2 separate regions of the Homo sapiens genome follow, and region 2 is linked to region 1. Evidence: fine-mapped expression QTL. A gene starts in region 1. The other region holds a variant in brackets. All regions are shown on one strand. Distances are between the middles of the regions.

Region 1 (8,469 bases):
ATTTCAGAATTCAAATGTCATACTTAAAAACACACATACATACATATAATGTGCACACACACACACACATAAACACAGTAACTTCATTTACACTATGAATCACTAAAGCAGACTCTGAAATGGTTTCACCTAACTACAGTAATAGTTATATACAGCATAATTTTTAGTTCTAATACAAGGTACTTGCGTCAGCTACATTTACATAAAAGTGAACACTTAAGTTTTGGCTCCTTGCTGGCTGTTGCATCCAATCTAATGACCACCAAAATCTGGCTGCAGTCTATCTTTCTAGGCTTAGCTCCCATTATCCTTTTTGCATTCTATGTTCTAGCTAAATCAGATTAATCTCTGCTCTTTGAAAACAAATGATCTATGTAAGCGTTATTCTTTTATATTCCATGTTCCTAAAATAGCTATTCTCTTTATCTCCATAATTCAAAAATTCTATTCAAATTTCAAAGCTTGATTCAAATTTGACTTCTGCCATGGAACACTACTATGGAGCAAGAGTATTTTATTTGTACCCTTACTATTATGTCAAGGGTCACTTTCCTCCTTCTATTATTTGAATGTAAGTTTATTAAGACAGAAGCTATATCATATATTATTGCAATATCCTCAGCATCTATCATAGTGTCAGAAAATGTTTATTGAACTTTAATAGATTCTTTAAAAAATATTAAATTTTACATATACATTAAAAAGATGTTTATCCACAGTTTTGATGCACTTAAGTTTACAAGCAGAAGTTTTCCTTTTTCTCCACTCCATGATTCTGTTTTTTAAGAAGCAGAATTTTTAATAAAGGAAAGATATTTATATAGATTAAGCACCATATAAGAGTAATTTTAACTTGTGAGTTAAAGTCACTTTTTGTTTACTGTAGACAATAAATTATAAATGCTTATTTTTCTAAAAGAAATTCATTTTTTGATAACTTATATTTCCTTTTATTGGAAGATTATCCTAGCATTAAAATCTATGTAATTGAGGGATTATATGTGCAATTTAAAATAAAATTATGCTTTCCCAAAGTCATTTAATCCTATTAATTGTCAAGTGAATATTTCAGAAATTACTGACCTTTTTAATACTGAAAATGAAATCTGCCTGTGCAGACTACATCCAATTAGAAACTAACTCCTGGGCTCAAGTAATCCTCCCATCTCAGCTTCTGGAATAGCTGGGACTACAGGCATGCATCACCACACTCAGGTAATTTTTAAATTTTTTGCAGAGATGAGGTCTCACTATGTTGCTCAGGCTGATCTTGAAATCTTGCAACTTCTGAGCTCAAATGATTCTCCCACCTCTGCTTCCTATAGGGCTGGGACTATAGTCGTGAGCCACTGTGCCTGGCCAATGACAATTCTCTTTAAGAGAGAAAATACTTCTGTTTTTGCTTTTTTTTTTTTTGCAGGGGGAGGGGGATGGTGAGGTAGGGGAGGTGATGAATTTAACTGTACTGAAAATGGTACAAGGAAATCAAACTGCAGAAAAAAACAGTTCCACATTTAGTTACATTTTAGTTTTGGGTTTTCCCCAGACATTGCAGGCCAAATTAGAGTTAAGATGAGGAAATCCTTTCAGTCCTCACAGACCAGACTTGGCTTTATAAAACATAATCAAGTCCCACTATACAACCTAGGTGTTAGGAAGCAACTAGAGTTTTCAAGGTAGATCTGGGCAACACGCAGACACCTCCATTTCTGAGGCTGAAGGAAACATGCACCAGTGCTAACTGCCACGCATATGAAAAATGTGAACTCCTAGCACGGTGACAGTAGCTGTATGCTGAATACCATTTAATTTAATAAGCATTTGTTTGTTGAATACCTTATGCATTCAAATAACAGAGCACTTCTGATACAACAATGCTTCAGCCTACACAGTATTCTGAAAGGAGTCCCAAATAGCTCAATTTTACTTTGGGTATTTTCTGCTTAATAATAAAAGTGAAGCAACCTCGTATGAAGAATTAAGTTATTACAGTAAGTGTTATTGCTGTTGCCAGGACCAAACTTACTGTAACAATGTATCAAGAACTCTAGGAATAAACTGTGTGTGGGTTATCTAAATTTATCAAAGTCTAAATAAATCTCTAAATGATTCTAGATGATAATTTAAAATTTAAATTACTCATTCAACAAATGCAGAGTATCAGTGTTGTAGCAGCCACTGTATCAGGCCCTGCAGAGAAATAGTGAGCATACTGGGTATGTGCCCAACTTTCATGATTACAAATTAGTAGGAAGTCACACACAAGAAGTGAATTATAGCCAGACGTGGTGGCTCATGCCTGTAATCCCAACACTTTGGGAGGCCGAGGCGGGTGGATCACTTGAGATCGGAGTTTGAGGCCAGCCTAGCCAACAGGGGAAACCCCATCTCTACTAAAAATACAAAAATTAGCAGGGGGTGGTGGTGCGCTCCTGTGATCCTAGCTACTTGGGAGGCTGAGGCAGAACTGCTTGAAGCCGGGAGGTGGAGGTTGCAGTGAGCAGAGGTTGCCACTGCACTCCAGCCTGGGCAAAAGAGCAAAAGACTCTGTCGCCCCCACCCACAAATGAATTATATGTGTAAGGTATGGAGGCATAATCAGAAATTACGTGAAGGTAGAGATGGGGTGTGCCTACCACAGGAAAATTACAGGTGATAGAGTGCTTTACTTGCTGTTCAACTACTCACCCACAAGACTAGCATTTGGTGTTGTTTATTAAGAAGGTATTTACTAGCAGTCTTATTTAAAAAATGACCTGTGTTTAACTTTCCAGCCGCAGAAGAGAAAAAAGGTCTAGAACCCTGAAAAATTCCCATAGCAGAAGGAAGAAAGTAAAGGAAAATATGCTTTTAAAAAATGGAGAGAAAACAGGGGAAACGGCTGTAAGAGTTGTTTAATGATTTTAGCTATTTTCCTTAGATTACCATTTGTACTTTTTTTGTTTGTTTATGGTAAGATAGTTTTCATGTGCCAAAATTTCTGCTTGGACTAACAGAAAATTCATCCTGTAAGATTGTTATATGATCCCACAACGGTTAGGAGTGCCCTGGGTCCAGGCAGAAATCCAAAGATGGAGCTAATAATGTGACCCGCAGCTCTACTCCAGAATGCAGATGAATAGAGATTTTGAACAGTTCGGAGCTCAATGTCCACTGAATATGCACTCATACTTTAAACCTAAATAAAGTGAAGCCTTTGAGTTAAATGGCAGAGCGCCTCAGCAGCAATTTTGCTCGTTTTCAAGTTCTTATTTCGTGATTTGAAGCTTTTGACCTTGCTAGCATGTTCTTTCTGAACGCTTTTGCAGATGGTTGGTTATGGTGGGGAGTAGTAACCCTAGCATAAAGACGTTCTAATTCTAACTTACCTTAGGTAACCTATAAGGGTAGCTTACGCTCACTCTCATACTTGAAAATCAAAACCGAACAGAATTCACACGATGGAAGCAAATCATGCTACAACCTACTATTAGAGACTGAAGGGAAACGCACAAAGATTAATGAACAACAAAGAACACTTCAAAAAGTACAGTATTTGGAAAAGACATGCCTTTATGTACACTAAAACTAATTTAAAAAATTAAATGCAGTTTGCTAGGAGTCTTACAAGTATTAACAGCATGTTCACTGCTTAGGATCCTTAGTAGCAATATTTTCCCGGCTCGCCTGCCCCTATGCCTCATTTCCTCTTCTTTTTTTTTTTGAGATGGAGTTTCGCTCTTGCCGCCCAGGCCAGGTGCCATCTCAGCACTGCAACCTCCGACTCCCGGGTTCAAGCGATTCTCCTACCTCAGCCTCCCGAGTTGCTGGGACTACAGGCGCACGGCACCACACCCGGCTAATTTTTGTATTTTTAGTAGAGACGGGGTTTCACCATGTAGGCCAGGCTGGTCTCTAAGTCCTGACCTCAGGTGATCCGCCTGTCTCGGCCTCCCAAAGTGCTGGGATGACAGGCGTGAGCCACTCACCCGGCCCTCTTCTCGACTTTCTATCCCTCCTCCTCAACACCCTTTCCTTCTGGAAATGGGCTTTGGGGTGGTTAACCAAGCCCAGGGAAACTTGCGTGGCCCAGCATCTTCCGTCCGCTGCAGGAGGAGCACACGCCCCCGGCCCGGGTCAGCAAGACGCGAGAAAGCGGCCACGCCGGGCGTCCGGGAGCTGAGGCTGGAGGGCGCCTGGCAGGCAGGGCGGGGCCCAGGCGGCGGGAGTGCTTATGACCGGCGCTGGGGGGAACTTCTGGACGTCAAGGGGCCACTATAAAGCGGCACAGTCTTGAGCCTTCGCTCTTCACCTAAGTCAGTGAGCGCCCTTCGCAAAGCCTCTGTGGAGGTAACCATTGGGGGTTCGCCTCCAAATCCAGGAATGCACCTCAAAAATGCTCCTACACCGTAAGACCGTGTCCTTCAATGCAAAGGGGACTGTGCGGCGAGGCACCGACAAGCCGTAGCCCTGAGACCACTGAAAGCCTGCACCCCAGCGCCGGTGCGAGAACGTGGAGATGGCGGTGGGGAGGAGAGGTGGAGGCCATGCTCTCGCGTGATCTCCCCTACCGCCATCGTCTTCTGGCCTGTCAAGGCCTCGCGTTGTTTGGGCTTGGGGGCGGAGCGAGCCCTGAGGGGGGCGGGGCCAGATGGGGGCGTCTCCCGGCCTTGTTGACTTTGGCGTCCGCGGGGAGCTGCCCCTGTGCCCGTGGTTCTCTGCGCATGCCCGGACCCCGGCGGCTCCGGAGTCCGGGAGGCTCTGGCTGCTCCAGTCGCGGGTCCGGGCCCCGCCTCTCCACTCGGCGGTGGCGTCCGTGTTGTTATTGTGGTGGTAGCGGCGTCTGGCTGCTGCGGACCCCGCCGAGTCCTAGCGCCTGGCCTGCGCGCCGCTGCCCGCGCCACAGGTAACGCCGCCGCCAGTGGGGGCTCGGGGTCGTGGGGTGTGCGAGTCCCGCGTGCTAGGGCCGGGCGGGCGACTGGGATGCGCTTGGAGGCCAGAGGGCCAGGGGGACGGCAGCCGAAGAGTCGGGGGCAGGGGGACTTAAGGGCGGGCAGGTCGGGGGCCAGGAAACTGAGGCGCTGCGGGGCAGGTTGGGGGAAGGACGGGCCGGGGGCGGAGGACTTGGGAGGTCGGGGAGTCGAAAGGGGCCCAGCGAAGCCTGGAGGTCGGGAGCCGGGGTCCCTGGGGCCGGGGAGGTCGGGGGCCCGAGGGAGGCCGGGGCGCCGCGTCCTCGGCCCGTCCTCGGCTCGTCCTCGGCTCTGACCTGGGCTTGGGGACCAGAGTCCCGAGGCTGGCGTCTTGAGATGCCCGCGGGCCCCTTAGGGCCGTTTTGGATCCGCCCAGTGACTTCTGTTTTGGTTTTGGAGGCAGAGAATCCAGTCTACGTAGACTCGGGGAAGTCTCGGGGGCTGGGAGGGGACTGAGAGGTTATAGCAGGCGCCAAGGCCTCTTTTTGTGTTTTTGAGCGTCTACTACCGTTCCGGGGAAGTGCAGTGCCCGCGTTTTGCTTGGGGAATTTCAGACACCGGCATGGGGAGGACCCACGGGCAGAACCCGAGGGAGTAATTTTGCAAATCCAAGATTTTTTGGAACTTCTATAATTTTGTTTTCGTGTGTCCTCTTTTTAGAATCGAGAAACCAGAGATATATTTTTAACATTACAAATCAGAAGAATTTGCTACGGAGGAAAAAAGTATGCTTTTAGCAGTGTTTTTCCCCTATTTATTTTTTTAATTACAAAAGTACTGCTTGCTCCTTGAGAAAAACATGAAGCAGCCAAACAATGAGGAAACCTGCCCTCTCTCGCGCCCTTCCCCCCATATTTCTCCTTCTTACTACCCAGGGTAGCCAGTCTCCAAGTGTGGTGGGTAGTTATTCAGGATTTTTTTTTTCTGTGCATTTAATGAGTGTGCTTTAGAAACAAGATTGGGATCATATATAGTACAGTATATCGTTTTATTAGCCAACAATGCATCATGGATATTCCTCCATTTTATTACACACCTCATTATTTTAAAAAACATTATTACTATGTATTAGAGAATCCAATCTACGTAGGCTTGGGGAAGCCTTTTCTTCATTGTTAAACATGGTCGCCAAGTTTTCAATAATCAGTAGCTTTGAAAAGGGCTACAAGCCAATATTTTGAAACAATGTGGCAAAACTTTCAGAATGTCTGCGGCCAGACGACATTACTTTCGTATTAAGCAGATTAATATGTTTACGTATTGCTTAATGGTAGTTTACATGAGGCTAGATGACTCCATAAAACATAAAGTTGCTGAATTAGTTTACTTTTTGGTTTTTTTTATTTCATTTTTTTCTAAGTAAATTTTAATTCCATATGGTCAGTTGAACACTTGTAATTTCTTTAACATGAAGTAGCTAATATGTGAAGGAAAGGTAAGGTAGGAAAGATAGAAAGCTAGTGGCCCTAGCCTGAGACAAGAAAAAAAAAGCAACAGGGATTAAATATTTTGGTAAGTAAGCTATAGGGAGTAAACTGGAAGTGGAGGGGTGATACTACACTGCCTACTATTAAGTAAGACAGAAAGCTAGGAAATTCCCATTGCATACTGTATTTCTGTGTGCAGAAGAGCTGGAGGCTTTGTTGATTTAATCACTAGCTTGTATTTATTAAAAATGTACTGTGTTCATCTTGGTGCTAGCTTCCAGGGAAAGAACAACTGAGGAAGATAATCACGAACAACGTCTGGTTCTAAACATGCATAGCCTGAAATTTTAAGCCAAATTGTGTAGTATTTTATGATTTGGAAACTGTGCTCGAAAGGAATAAAAAAATCCATGACATTTTAGTTATTTTTGGTAATAATATGCTCATATATTTCTCATAACAACATAAATGACATTCTTCTCATTCTATAGAGTAATAAATAGAGGCTTTGAGTAAAAGAACTGCTCAAGATCCCATTGCTTTTTTTTTTTTTTTGTAATAGTGCGTGTTTATATTCAGGAGTGCTTAATCCAAGAACCTGTGTTTTCTGCTCTTGTTTTACCTCCTATGAACGAAAAATTGTTGCCCTTACGGTTTTTTCTGCTTTCTTTGAAATGTTCCTTACAGAATAACTACATGAATGTAATCACATGCATTTAAAATAGTCTAGAGAATATAGTGTGAAACTATAATGGTATTTTTTTAGATGAGGTTTCTGGTGGCATATTACTAAAATTTTAAACTCCTTGATCTTATGCTGTTAACCAAGAAGATGGGGATTTGTGTTACTTTAGACACTGCTGGGTGCCATGGTAAATTGGGATGTTATTGTAAATTGTAGCTCTCACAGCTGCGTATTGCTTACAAACTCGGAAGGATAGTCTCATATCAGTAAACATTTTTATGAACGTAGTTGAACTTTTTTGTAAATTAGTGTGCTGGAAAGAATACCAAGAGGGCCCTAAAAAAGTCTAAAAGGATTAAAATTTACTTATGTAATTATTGGTATTTTAAAATATTTGGTAGTCACTTAAAATGCATAATGACAGACAATAGGGTGTCATAATATGGTTTATTAATCTTTTTTCATTTTCCACTAGATGTGGCAACTACATAGTTGGAAGAAATGTGGCGGCCGGGGGCAGTGGCTCACGCCTGTAATCCTAGCACTTTGGGAGGCTGAGGCAGGTGGATCGCCTGAGGTCAGGAGTTCGAGTCCAGCCTGGCCAACATGGCAAAACCCCGTCTCTACTAAAAATACAAAAATTAGCCGAGCTTGGTGGTGGGCATCTGTAATCCCAGCTACTCGGGAGGCTGAGGCAGGAGAGTCGCTTGAACCTGCGAGTCAGAGGTTGCAGTGAGCCAAGATCGCTCCACTTCACTCCAGCCTGGTCAAAAGAGTGAGACTCTGTCTCAAAAAAAAAAAAAAAAAAAAAAAAAGAAATGGGACAAATACTAACATTAATAAAGTATGGTCAGTTGTAATCTGTATTTGAGAAGAAACCAAAAATACAGGAAAAGCTTTGACATTTTACTGGCAATTGTTAAGGATGATAATTGGATTCATACCTAAATGGCGTATCTGCCATTGATTATCTCTCGGTCAACGTAACATTGGATGTTGGATGTGAGTGGGTTTTATAATTAGGTGACACAGAAATATTTCAGCCCCCTAAAGACGTTTTTAGAATATGGTAAGATTTTTTCAGCTGTTGAAGTGGGGAAGGATTGTGAATCAAACACTATGTGTATGTGTATTCTCAAAAATTAATGAGAGGTATTGCTGATGGGAAGACATAGCATATTTTCCAGTTTAACCTGAAAATCCTTTTTGGAACATTATGCACGGGTAGCCAGAAATAACTCAACTTTATGTCTTGATACAAGACATGCATCAGGTATGATTTCTAGAGCTTAAAATATTCTTGGAGTTTAAAAACTAATTTGCATAAAACACTCTTCTGTGTTTTCTACTGAGCACTCTTCAGTAACTTGCAGGCTCTTAAAAACCTTTAATGATAATCATGTTATCA
Region 2 (8,469 bases), 30 kb before region 1:
GAAAAAAATTACAGAATTAACTGAGGTCTACTACAATTTAGTCATCCCTTCAGCCAGGCTCTAGACAAACCACTGGGGTTAACAGAATGCATAGTCAAGTTAGGGTAGCCCCTACCCATAGCTCTCCAGGGAACTCCAAATCTGTGATCCTGTGGTGCAAGACATCCTAGGCTCACCTGCCCTGAGTGGACCTCATCTCACATCCTCATGCTTCCCCAACCCACTGGTTCTGTGCCCTTCCTCAAACATACTAAGCACACTTCCTCCCCACCCCCAGGACTATTGCACTGCTGTTTCTGTGGCTAAAAGATTTACCCTCAGATAGTCTCACATCATCCAGGTCTCTGCTCAACTACCAGCTCTTCACTCAGACCTCCTGGCAACAGTCCTGTCCTTATCTGGAGACTTCTCATTCTAACACAGGTCATCTCTTGGCCTGCTTCATTTATCTCAATACTACTCACCTTTACTGGATAATCATCAATCTACTTGTTCACAGGTGTATTGTTTGTCCCCTCACTAGAATATAAACTCCATGAGGGCAGGGACTTTGTTTTGTTGATGCTGTGTTTCCATGAATTTATCACAGTGCCTGGAACATAGAGGATAACTGATATTCGTTTGGGGGGAATGAATAAATGAATGAAGATATAATTTCTGTGGGGAGACAGACATGCCATAAATTATTGCATGGAAGCACAGAGTTCAAGTCTTTCTAGGGAGGAGGTAAGAGGAAAGGCTTCTCAGACAAGTGACGTTTGTGAGGGATCTTGAAGATAAAGAGATTGGTGCTAGGCAGAAAAGGAGGAAAAGGCACCCCATTGCAGGAGGAAACCCCAAGTGCACAAAGACATGAAGTTAAAACACTGTTAGGGTCAAAGAAAGGTAGGAGGTTTGGTGAGCATGGGAACATAAAGTGAGGCTGCACTGTAAATGCTTCCTACGCTATGTGTCAGCAAGTGGAGAAACTATGACTGTCACAACGTCAGGCACCATATCCCTCATAGGAAGTCAGGGTCTTGGCATACTCAAGCTGGTTTATTTGAGGAGTATTAACAAGTTATCTGCAAAGGTGGGTCTGAGTTTAAAGATACCAAGAAGGAATAATGTCACCCCCTAGAGAGCCTTTGCCAGCCCTAGGCCTGAAGGAGCAAAGGAAGGAAGATCAGAACCCAGAGAGGACAACTAGAAGAAACACAGAGCACCCTCAGGACCTGGTGCAGAGCAGGCGCCAGGGGAGGTCCCTGCCACAACTTGCCTTCCCCCAGGCCCGTGCCATCTCTTGCTGCCTCCCATTGGTTGAACCAACCTGGAGGCCTAAGATAAGAGGTTTTTGCTGATGCAGTTCCCACCCTTCCTGGACCACAGAGCAGGACAGCAAGAAAATTCTGAGGGACAACAAGAAAATACCCAGCACTGGAGAATTCTCTTTAGTGGGAAGAATGCTTTAGCACCTTGAGATAGATGGTGAGACCCAAAAGTCATGTCCAGGCAGCTGAAAGCATTGCTAAAAGCCTCACATGCAACAGTGAGAGAAGCTTTGTTTTGCCCCAAAGAAGGAGATGAGGGAAGAATGTGGAGAGAGAAGAGAAAAGGGAGGGAGAGAACCACTGTGTCTAGCCTGTACACAGTGTAGCTCCTCCTCAAGAAAGAACCACAGGTGTTCAGTGACTCTGTATACCCCAAAGTAGACACATTGTGTGACCATATCACTGATTTATTTTCTTCTGGAAACTGATCAAGAAACTAGGTTTCCTTGGAACTAGGTTTCCTTGGAACTAGGTTTCCAAGGAATCAAAACAACTTGGTGGTACCCAAGGACAGCCTTTGCACAGAAGTGTGAAGGCAGAACAGGCCCTGAAATCCCTATAACTCTTTCAGGGCTATTGGTCTTCCACAGACTGTAAAGTTGCCAGGGTTTGCTCAGTTTTACATAGATCTTACAGTTCCAAACTATTATGGGTTATTTTTTGTTTATTTATTTATTTATTTTTTGAGACGGAGTTTCACCCTCGTTGCTCAGGCTGGAGTGCAACGGCGTAATCTTGGCTCACTATAACCTCCACCTCCCAGGTTCAAGCAATTCTCCTGCCTCAGCCTCCTCAGTAGCTGGGATTACAGGCATCCGTCACCACACCCAGCTAATTTTTTGTATTTTTAGTAGAGATGGGGTTTCACCATGTTGGCCAGGCTGGTCTCAAACTCCTGACCTCAGGTGATCCACCCACCTTGGCCTCCCAAAGTGCTGGGATTACAGGCGTGAGCCACCATGCCCGGCCGGGTTACTATTATTAAGAAGTTTGGGATTTTTTCTCCAAGTAATAGTCAAGATATAAAGGCCTTAACGTAGAGGGTGGTCACGGTGGTCATGCGAAAGTTGGGCTGGAGTTGGGAGAGACTGAGAACGGAGTGGTCACTTAAGAGGCTAAGGAAATAGCTCAGGCCAAAAAGACAATGCCCTCACCTATGATGAGGCCAGGGAGTTTACTCTTGAATCTTCTTGATGCACTGTTCCAAACTTAAGTCATAAATATCATCCTTAATAAAATCACTCAGAGCCTGTATGATTTCACTTAGCCTTAGTCCTGATGCTGTTTCATTTAACACCTGCCATTTGTTCAATTGCCGCTAATCACTTCCTGTGTGCATTTTCTGAGTTTCTTTCTCTCTATCTGTTTGTTTGTTTGTTTTAAATAGGGTAACAACTTCGCTTTTCTCTCCCTTGCAGTGTGACACTGTAGCTCCTCTACTCCTCACCTTCTGTTGGTTTTGTAAATTAATCATTTTAACCAGGGAATGCTGGTTTCACCTTCCAAGATATAAATCCTTCAAGGTTCTGTTATGTCATATTGGAAGACAGAAGACATTTTTTTTTTAACTAAATGGCATTCTTTTTCTTTAAGAGATAGTGAAGAAAACAAACACTGATTTTTCAGTGGTACGCTCCTTTTTATTTTCAACTAAGACTAGCAGGGTGCTGGGCCATAACATAGTAAACTTGAGCATTTTGAAAAGATCAGAGCTTTTGTAATACCAAAAACATAACCAAAATTCACTGTAGATAACCCCCACTGTCCCACATGCTTATCTAAAAAGGCGTGACTTAAAAGGAATGTCAAGATTTAAAATGCCATTGTCTTTGGTGTAGACAACTTCCTAGAATTCAACAGTTCTATTTCCTGTAATTTTCATCTTGGGGAAAACCATTAATTCTACGAGATGTGATATTTATTTATGGCTCTGTTTTTTAAAAATTGTCGGACATGAGCCATTTTCCAATACTTACATAAGGACAAAGTTACAAATTAAGCCTTGGGTAATATTCACCTGCAAATATTCTCATGTTTATCAACTCAAAAAAAAAAAAAACCCCACACACTTTCATGTACTAAATACATGCTATGGCTAAAAGAATACGTATTTTAATAGCAGGATCCATCTTGAATTTTTCCTTATTTTTGATAAACCTAGTTAAACCATTGTTGGACTTTCTTCCATGGTGTATTGCAGGCACACTAAACAAAATCCCAGGGTACAAAATTACACTCATTGCTTAGATGCTGGGCTCACACCTAGACAAATGGTATGTTTTTAAAAATACATGCACCAGAGTTGCTTGAATCTCTCAATTGCTTTTCAGCAGTTTATAAAACAGTAAAAGAATTAAAGACTCTAATGTGGTTTAATGTCA[G/A]GGATTAAATTAGAAATGCTAAATAAAGAAACCTGCTCTTATTCAAAGAACATGCATTTGCATGTAAGATTCCAGCATAACTGTTACTAAGTCTTTTATTTCCATCTCATCTAAAATGACAAAGAATGGAAAAGCTCAGGCAATTTGTCCAATTAAATTATAATATGGGAGAGACATGGTGGCTCATGCCTGTAATTCCATTTTGGGAGGCCAAGGTGGGATGATAGCTTGAGGTCAAGAGTTCGAGACCAGCCTAGGCAACATAGTGAGACCCATCTCTACTAAAAAAAATTTAAAAATTACCCAAGTGTAGTGGCACATGCCTGTAGTCCCAGCTATGCAAGAGGCTTAGGCAAGAGGATTACCTGAACCCGGGAGGTTGAGACTGTAGTAAGCTATGATCATGCCACTATACTCCAGCCTGGGAGACAAAGTCAGACTCTGTCACTAATAAATAAATAAATTAAATAAATAAATACATAAAATTACAATATATATTCAAAAGTTATAAGTTTGATTGAAATTTAATAAGGGTGACTTGTGTTTCTCAAAGTGCAATCCTCAGACTGATGAACAGGAGTGGGACATGACTTCTCCTTCATACATTTTTTATTTTTTTCTTCTCTTCACAAAACCCACACCACTACTTCATGGATGGTATACCCATTAACCCTGAGGCTTCTGTCACACAAAGCAAATAGCCATTCTTCTGTGCTCTCATAATGTTCAACCATTCCTTTTACTTAGAGAATTCCAGAAACTGACCTTAGGAGAGCTAAACATCAAACAAGGTTGCGAGTGTCCTTCCTTGGGAAGAAAAACTGAAAAATTGATTACTGCTTCGCTGCCCCCACCAGACCACCAGGTGGTTCATTACTCAAGAGAACCATCACAACCAGACATGCTGACCTGCATCCCCTACCCTTCACATGCTTTGCCCAGCCCAGCCTGCATACACTAGTCTTGAAATCAATTCCCATGTTTTGTCTAATTAAAAAAAAAAAAAATCCCTAATGGCGTTTCTTTGGGAGCTAGCCAGAGGATCTTTCTCACCGTTGCTGTCTCCCTTGCACTTGAGCATAAGCCCCATAATAAAAGTCTTATCTGGAAAATCTGCTTGGCCATGAGTTAATTTCCATTATATGGGTAGCCAAAGAGCCTGTGGTCTGTAACAAAGCTACCTCTATCAGAATTATCTGAGATGTGTATCAAAAATACCATTTCCTACATGTAGCAAGAAAGCCTTGGCCACTCTTGGATCCCACAGTTTGCGCTCTTGGCTCACTGCCATGTGGCCATGCTTCCTTCACCTCTGCAAAGCCGGCTTTGATAAACTGTCATAAGGAATATCTGGCACTGCTACTCCAGGCTCCAGATAAATGCCAACATGGGAACAGAACAAAAGCATAAGGTGATGATATGGTTTGGATTTGTGTCCACACCCAAATCTCATATTGAATTGTAATCCCCAATATTGGGGGAGGGATCTGGTTGGAGATGAATGGATCATGGGGTCAATTTACCCCCCTGCTGTTCTGGTGATAGTGAGTGAGTTCTCACTAGCTCTGGTTGTTTAAAAGTATGTAGGGCTTCCCCCTTTGCTCTCTCTCTCTCTCTCCTGCTGGCCATGTGAAGATGTCTTTGCTTCCCCTTCACTTTCTGCCATGATTGTAAGCTTCTTGAAGCATCCCCAGCCATGCTTCCTGTACAGCCTATGGAACTGTGAGCCAATTAACCCTCTTTTCTTTATAAATTATCCAGTCTCAGGTAGTTCTTTATAGCGGTGTGAGAATGGACTAATACAGATGTTCTTTTTGTTTTTACACCTTGTTCTAGCACTTCTGTATGCTTAAGATTTTGTTATATTTTTGTCACAAAGTGAAGTTCCCCCCTTAGTACCCCTAAATAAGAAAGGTAGAGTTGCAATTTAATGCTACTAACAGCTATAAAAGAAAGCAGCAGTTTCCCTTGGCCAGGGCAAAGCAGCCACTACAAAACTTGACCATGGTTTCACTTCACAAACTGATAAATGGCACTCCTTATGTGCCAGGCAGTGACCTGAGTGCTTTACAATCAACGTTGACTTATGGAATCTTCTAGATGAGCCTGTGAGGTAGGTACTATTGTTAGCCTCATGATAAATAAGGAAAGAACATTTTTGTAGTCACTTCTCTGTGAGGTTTGAGGCTCAAGTTCTTGGAACTTTGAAACATCAGCCAACAACAAAACACTACCAACAAAAAGTTTGCTCCAGTAGAAGATGTGAAGCAACTGATGCATAAAATATCTTGTTATTTTTAAATGTTACTCTGGGTGAAAAATAAAAAGACTATTAAAAAACTCTTCTGTCAGTGGTCCCTTGGAGCTCTGAAGTAAATTTAAAACATAATGATTGGAAAGGAGCCTCCTTTCACACTTGGAAAAGAAGTCCCCAAAACTCTGGGTGCTGTCTGAGACCTTGCAACTTCAAATTGCTGGGGGTGGAGCCCAGGACACTAGGGTGGAGGCTGTCACTCCCCACACTACTGGGACTTAGAGACTCAGAGCCAGCTCTTGGTCCTCTCTGCAAAGAATACGTAGGAAGTAGTTTAATTTTCAGTAAAAGAAGAAATGTTTTTCAACGTGGTCACCTGCAGAAACTACAGTCCACCTTTATAGTGGTAAAATATAATTACGGTCTTGAGAATTTCCCTAAAAGATTCTGCATGGGTTGAAATTTGGGCTTCAAATCAGCAAAGGGAGGATGGGACACAGCTTCTGTGAAAGTTCCTCTAAGGAGGATGCAGCTTCAAGTGAGTAACCTGTGATACCTTTTCATTCTGGATGGATAGAAGAGCTTATCTGAAAATAAAACCTAAATTTGTGTGGGAGTTTTTTTTAACTCCTTGCAATACCCGGATGGATGGATGGATGGATGGATGCATGGATGGATTGAGACAGTGTCTCCTTCTGTTGCCCAGGCTGGAGTACAGTGGCACAGTCAAGGCTCACTGTAACCTTGACCTCGCAGGCTATGGGGATTTATTGCGAAGCAAGAAGTAAGTAATCAAGAAAGGGGAGTAGGGAGTGCAACTGTACTCGAGAGAGAGTAGCACCCAATGGGGTTTGAGGCTTCTACTTCTTTAACCAAGGAATATTCACACCGATTCCTGGAAAAAGGTGAAGATTCCTTGGAACTGCGGTACCACCTATTTTTACCCCAAATATAGATGTTCCCAAAACTGTCATGGCACTGGTGGGTAATGGATTTAATGTTTTACTGAGCATATAATGAGGTCCTAGGTAAAACCTAGGTCAAATCCAGCACCATGTTGGGTCCAGTTGGTCTCAGTAAGCTTGGTCCACTCCCTGGTTTTCAGGTTTTCTCATCCCCTAGCTCATGCAGCCATTTCAACAGTTTTCTTTGGCTAGCCATGTGAAACTGCTGCCTAGAATTTTCTCCTGTGACCACCCTGTATTATTTCTGTCTCAACCTGAGGAGCTCTTCTGGTAGTCTTCATGTGGCTAAAGCTTAAGTTACAACTAGCTGGGTGTGATGGCTCATGCCTATAATCCCAGCACTTTGGGAGCCTGAGGCAGAAGGATCACTTGAGCCCAGAAGTTTGAGACCAGCCTGGGCAACATGGTGAGACACTGTCTCTATAAACACACACAAAAAAATTATTTTAAAAAAAGAATGAACTGTTAATGCACAGAATAAATCATGGGCTTTGGAATGAGAATTGGGATTAAATCCAAAATTAGGTGACCTTGAGCAACACCTGTAAGTTTCTATTCTGTTTCCCCAACTATAAATGGAAATACGATTATTCATTCTTTCATTCTGTAGGGACTAATGAAAACTTTCCTTTCAACCTCTGAAGGTTCACTGAAAATAAACTGACAAAGGCAGATTGATAGGAGAAATGGCATACCCATTGATTAGTGTGCAGGGAGCAGGAGAAATCACAGAGTGATTGCTGCATCACGCATAAAGTATACAGATGGTTATATACCTTTCTTCTTAGGGGAAAGGACGATGGAAAAGTGTAGATTATTTTAGGGAGTAGTAAATTAGTTTTAGGGGAATTCGATGGGCTTGAAAAACACTCAGTAACCTGGGACAAACTTTGTTTGGGCCCACAGGGCAGACAATGGTTTCTTGCTTCCTGTGATATGAGTTTGAAATAGGCCCAACTGTCTCATAGAAATGATATATATGGGTTTTTGAATAACACAGAAATGGACCCTCCATCTTAATATTTAAAACTTATATTTGTCTTAACTGTGTTCCTTCTTCAGGAAACTGACCCTCAGGCAAGGGACTAAAACTCGTCAGATCACCGCATCCAGACAATGAGATGCCAGACCTCGTATCCATCATAATTGCTTCCTTACTCCTCCCTAATTTCTGTTTTCCCTGCCTTCCCCTCTATATAAATGATAGATGCAGGAGGCAGATAAGGGAGGCTACCTGGAGAATCTCCAATCCATCCCACAAGTGTTCATATCAGATGCTTTTGTGCAGAGGGGGAACATGCCCAGGGCCTTGTCTGGACATGCCCACAATGGACTGGGGGCCTGCCTGCACACTGGGAGTATGGGGTGGAGCCACCAGGGATCAGCACCTTATGCAGTAGGGAGGAGCCTGGACTCCTCAGCTTGTATGTGTGGTGCCCTGATATTCAATCTGTGAGGTGGGAGCCTGCTGTCAGGACCCCCTTTTTATTCACTGAGAGCTTTCTTTTAATAAATTCTGCTCTCCTCACCTTTCAATGTTTCCACATGCCTAATTTTTC

The links.
Region 2: its variant is fine-mapped to the expression of PCMTD1-DT in whole blood (INTERVAL, PIP above 0.99).

The regions. Positions count from the first base shown.
Region 1 is chr8:51,895,346-51,903,814 of GRCh38, reverse strand. PCMTD1-DT (PCMTD1 divergent transcript) reads right to left here and starts at 4,500. Exons shown (of 4, transcript NR_189279.1): 1 at 3,969-4,500. It overlaps PCMTD1 (protein-L-isoaspartate (D-aspartate) O-methyltransferase domain containing 1), which reads left to right and starts at 4,779. Exons shown (of 6, transcript NM_052937.4): 1 at 4,779-4,885. RefSeq lists enhancers at 3,663-3,722, 4,023-4,082, 4,253-4,542 and a silencer at 4,583-5,272.
Region 2 is chr8:51,925,067-51,933,535 of GRCh38, reverse strand. All of the region lies in intron 2 of PCMTD1-DT (PCMTD1 divergent transcript), which reads right to left. Among named protein-coding and RNA genes, the nearest start is that of PCMTD1-DT, 30 kb to the right of the region's middle. RefSeq lists a silencer at 255-384 and an enhancer at 7,307-8,469. The variant G/A (reference allele first, on the strand shown) is at 3,692.